Linked DNA regions of Homo sapiens: region 2 is linked to region 1. The links come from fine-mapping of genetic effects on gene expression. Tissue or cell type: unexposed skin. Region 1 holds a variant in brackets; the other region holds the start of a gene. All regions are shown on one strand. Distances are between the middles of the regions.

Evidence for each region. PIP is the estimated chance that this variant, and not a neighbour inherited with it, causes the effect.
Region 2: NACAD starts here. The variant in region 1 is fine-mapped to the expression of NACAD in unexposed skin (GTEx, PIP 0.91).

Annotation. Positions count from the first base shown.
Region 1 is chr7:44,810,925-44,813,604 of GRCh38, forward strand. No RefSeq gene overlaps it. Among named protein-coding and RNA genes, the nearest start is that of PPIA, 16 kb to the left of the region's middle. The variant T/C (reference allele first, on the strand shown) is at 1,222.
Region 2 is chr7:45,087,741-45,090,420 of GRCh38, forward strand. NACAD (NAC alpha domain containing) reads right to left here and starts at 1,229. Exons shown (of 8, transcript NM_001146334.2): 1 at 1,088-1,229. The coding sequence starts at 1,154.

The DNA.
Region 1 (2,680 bases):
TGCAGTGAGCTGAGATCGTGCCATTGCACTTTAGGCTGGGCGACAAGAGTAAAACTCCATCTCAAAAATAAATAAATAAATAAAATAAAGAAACAAATAAAACAAAGAGTTCAGGACATTGACTTTGTGGAATGTCCATTATTCTGGAGCTAATTGTTTCCTGTTTTTCTCTTTTAGCTCCTGTATTTTCTGTAAATTGGAAATTACACTAGGCCTAGAAGCTTAATTGGATTCAAATTCATCATATTTAGCAGGAAGATTTCATAGGTGATACTTTGTGTACTTAATCTTGCCTCACATCAGGAGGCACAAAGTCTCAGGCTGACTCATCAGTGAGGCTAAATTTGAACTTGCAGTTAAGGTAATGCCTGCCAGACTGCTCCACTGGAAAGGTATCTTTTCCCTTTTCTGAAAATTAGGTAATCTTGAGGGGTGATATTTTGCCTCTGCATAAAGACCCTCTTTCCAAGAAGAGAGCCTTTTCACCTGATTGTTGTGTTTTGGCATTAATTATATTTGTCTGAATCAATTATTCCCTTTTGCAGTTGTAAAGTACCCTTCTGATCCCTCCCTCCTCCTGTCACTATGGACTTATGTATTTTTATTCAATATATTAAATAATTGTTTTCCCAGTTGCCTTATTTGAATTTACATCCAAATAGGATCCATATATCTATAGAAGTTTGAGCAGAGGAGTGACAGCATTTGCCTAACTTTTTTTTTTTTTTTAGATAGGGTCTTGCTCTGTTGCCAAGGCTGGAATGAACTGATCTCAGCTCACTGCAGCCTCGACCTCCTGGCCTCAGGCGATTCTCCTATCTCAGCCTCCTGGTAGCTGGAACTACAGGCATGTGCCACCCACCACACCTGGCTAATATTAAAAAAAAATTTTTTTGAGACAGAGTCTTGCTTGGTTGTCCAGGCTGGAGTGCACTGGTGTTATCTCAGCTCACTGCAACCTCCGCTTCCCAGGTTCAAGCGATTGTTGTGTCTCAAGCCTCCTAAGTAGCTGGGACTATAGGAGTGAACCACCACGCCCGACTAGTTTTTGTATTTTTAGTAGAGGCAGGGTTTCACCATGTGGGCCAGGCTGGTCTCAAAGTCCTGACCGTAAGTGATCCGCCTGCCTTAGCCTCCCAAAGTGCTGGGATTACAGGTGTGACCCACCACTCCTGGCCAAAAAATTCTTTTAAAATTTTTTGTAGAGACAAGCTTTCACCA[T/C]GTTGCCCAGGCTGGTCTCAGACTCCTGGGCTGAAGCAATCCGCCTGCCTTGGTCTCCCAAAGTGCTAGGACTACAGGCATGAGCCACCGTTCTTCTTCTTTTTTTTTTTTTTTTTTTTTTTTTGAGACAGAGTCTCACTCTGTCATCCAGGCTAGAGTGTAGTGGCGCAATCTCGGCTCACTGCAGCCTCCACCTCCCGGGTTCAAGTGATTCTCCTACCTTAGCCTCCCGAGTAGCTGGGATTACAGGCGAGCGCCACCACACCCAGCTAATTTTTGTATATTTATTGGAGACAGGGTTTTGGCATGTTGGCCAAGCTGGTCTTGAACTCCTGACCTCAGGTGATTCACCTGACTCGGCCTCCCAAAGTGCTGGGATTACAGGTATGAGCCACTGTGCCCAACAGAGCTACCTTTTTTTTCCCCCCCGAGACGGAGTCTTGCTGTGTCACCCACTCTGGAGTACAGTGGCGTGATCTCGGCTCACTGCAGCTTCCACCTCCCAGGTTCAAGCAATTCTACTGCCTCAGTCTCCCAACTAGCTGGGATTACAGGCGCCCACCACCACGCCCGGCTAATTTTTTGTATTTTTTAGTAGAGACGGGGTTTCGCCATGTTGGCCAGGCTGGTCTTGAACTCCTGACCTCAGGTGATCTGCCAACTTCAGCCTCCCAAAGTGCTGGGATTACAGACATCAGCCACCGCGCCCGGCCTAAGCCACCATTCTTAAAAAGGTCACTTTGACTGAAGTCTGTTGAGGATAGACTATGTGGCGGAGTGAAATCTGGAGACTACTGCATCATCCAGGAGTGAGGAAAGGGGCTTGGGCCAGGATAGTAATGTCAGTGGTGAAAAGTAAATCTGCTTTAATGACAGGATTACTTTAAATGAAAGAGGAGGATATGATGGCTTATGCCTGTAGTCCTAGCTACTCAGGAAGCTGAGGCAGGAGGATTGGTTGAGCCCAGGAGGTCATGGCTGCAGTGAGCCATGATTGCACCACTGCACTCCAGCCTGGACAACAGAGCAAGACTGTCTCAAAAAAAATACGGCAGGGCGCAGTGCTTCACGCCTGTAATCCCAGCACTTTGGGAGGCCATGGCAGGCGGATCACCTGAGGTTGGGAGTTTGAGACCACCAGCCTGACCAACATGGAGAAACCCCGTATCTACTAAAAATATAAAATTAGCCGGGCATGGTGGCACATGCCTGTAATCCCAGCTACTCGGGAGGCTGAGGCAGGAGAATCACTTGAACCTGGGAGGTGGAGGTTGCAGTGAGCCAAGATCGCGCCATTGCACTCCAGCCTAGGCAACAAGAGCGAAACTCCATCTCAAAATAAATAAATAAATAAATAAATAAATATATATACACACACATATATTAATATAAAATATAAATAAATGCAAGAGGAAATGAGATTGGTTATCTTTAGAACCTTAAATTCTGAAATACTATT
Region 2 (2,680 bases), 280 kb after region 1:
GGGGTCCTTTGGGTTCTTGCATGCCTGACACCCAACATCAGGAGTGGGCGTGGCTGGTGGGGCATCACTGGGTGCCCTGAAGCTGGGCTCTTGGTTCTGGCCCCTGGTGTGGCCCCCAGGGCAGGGGAACGGCTGAGCTGTTGGGATGGAGCAGAAACCAAAGGCCAAAGGTTTTTATAACTCATTCAAGGTCACCAAGCAAGCCAGAACAGAGCCAGCACAAGACCCTGGGGCTGGGAAGTCTGGGCCTGCACTCCCTGCCTCCCACCTAGAGCAGAGGCAGCAGCCTGTGTCACCCCAAACCAGGCCCCAGGCCCCAGCAGTGGTCCCATCTCTGGGTGACTTCTTGCCCACAGCAAGGTGCCCTTGGCCCTACCCACACATGGCTGACCTCCACGCCAGGACTGTCCAGGCTCGGCTCTTTCTAGGCCCCGTAGACCCCATCAGCCTCCACCAGCATTTGTTGACCCAGCCTAAGGACAGGTGGTCTGCACACCCAGGGCCATTGCTAATCAGGCCACCTCCCCCAAGGCCTTCCACCTTCCAGACCCAACTTAGGCTTTATTCCACCACCTGGCCCTCCATCCGGGCTTCCTAGGCTCTGGCCAGTCCTGCTCCTCCCTCCAGAGCCATGACCAGTCGCCGGCCCAGGACAGACCGGGTGCAACTGAGGACCCTCCCGGTGGTCACCTGATCGTACTGGGGGTATCAGCCGGACACCCCGCCTCCAGAACCCGCTGCCTCTGTCCAGAGCGGCCCAGCCCCAGCAGGCTGGCAGCTCGGTGCAAACAACGGGATGCAGCGGGCGGGATGCGAGCCCCACGATCCCTGGGTCGGAAGCCAAGGGCTTAAGCCCCCACGTTCTTTCTGGCTCGCGGCGGGCACTTCGTGCGCCCCACCTTCCCCGCAGTTCTGAGAGAGGCGGTAGCAGGGTTCAGATGGAGGGAAGGACAGGGCGCGGAAAGGGGAGGGGACTCGAGGGGGGCCAGGGGGATGGGGGAGAGGGGTGAAAGGTGAGCGATGGAAAGAGAACCCGGGCTGGAGAGGGGAGAGGCTGAAGGCAGGGAAAGAGTGGCCACGGCCTCACCTGTGCGGGGCCCGGGTCGGTCCGCCTCGGGCAGCAGCAGCTCGGCGCGGGCAGCCTCCCCAGGCATGGCCTGGCCGTGCGCCCGCCCGTCCCTCAGTCCTTCCGACCCTCCGTCAGTCCGTGCCGCCGCCCCGCCGAGCCTGCGCGGCCACCGCCCCTCGGCCGGGCGGTGGGGGCAGTGGGTGACGTCAGGCCGCCCCGCCCGCCTGTCCCAGCGAGTGAGCGTGCGCGGGCTCGCCAGGCACTGCGGAGGGCGTAGGGGGGGCTCCCTCCCCGCCCCCACCCCACCCGGCTGTGGCCTCCCTCTCGCTGTGGGCGGTTTCGTGGGGGAGCGGGGGTGGGCGCCTGCGCCCGGTCCCACCCTTTCCACAGCATTTACGAGGGAGGGTTTCAGGGCCAATTGGAAGCTGGGTTGCCTCAGGGTGGCATTCGCCCGTGGCCAGGAAGAGGCGGGGACGCCCCTAGAACCCTGGTTGTGGGAGGCTGGGGAGGTGGTTGGGATTCTGGGATGCTCGGAGCGCTTTGGGTGGAGTTGGCGGCGCAGCCTCCTTCCCCGCTGACCAAGCAGAGGGTGCAGGGCCTGGGGAGGGAGGGGGCCCCGCCCAGCCCGATGCCTCCATGCAAAAGGTGAGCTGGAGCTGCAGCTCTGGAGTGATTGGCTGGTCCTGGCAGTCGTCGGTCTCCGTGGCAACCGCCTCCTGTCTCCATGGCAACCAGGGATGGAGCCGACGAGAGCGCACCAGGGAAGGCGACCCGGATGGGTCGGTCTCCAGGTCTCTAGGCAACTCGGTGATCTGTCCTATCATCTCCCCTCCACCCCCACACTAGGCAGTAGAAGGAAAAGGAAGAAAGTGTTTCCCTCTATTCCTGGCAGCACCCTCTGCCACACCTCCCAGGAGGAAGCCCGCCCCGTGAATTTCCTGAAATGCCTCTTGCTTTCACACAGGCTACTGCGCCACCCAGATTCACTGAGCACCCCTCCTCCCCCGTGCCAGGCACCAGGGAGACAGATGAATGAGACATTGTCATCACCCCTGACTGGGGTGGGGGGAATCAGAGTAGCCATTGTCACAGGCAGGGAGGGAGGTTTCAACATCCTCAGTCTTCTGTGGGTTCTAACTTTGAGCTCATGAAGCCAGGGGCTGCCCTCTGACTCCCCCAGACCTGCCTCAAGGCTCAGTGCTACACACCTGGCTGCCTGCTGGGCATCTCTCCCCGCTGTACCCCAGGAGTCAGACACACCACACCATTAGAATTAACATCAACTTCAAACAATCTCTTCCAGAAAACAAAAGAGAAGGGGACACTTCCTAACTCATTTTATAAGGCAAGAAATATCCTGATGTCAAAACTAACAATGTGTCGCCAGGCGCGGAGGCTCACGCCTGTAATCCCAGCACTTTGGGAGGCCGAGGCTGGCGGATCACGAGGTCAGGAGATCGAGGCCATTCTGGCTAACGTGGTGAAACCCCGTCTCTACTAAAAATACAGAAAATGAGCCGGGAGTGGTAGCGGGCTCCTGTAGTCCCAGCTACTCAGGAGGCTGAGGCAGGAGAATGGCGTTAACCCGGGAAGCGGAGGTTGCAGTGAGCC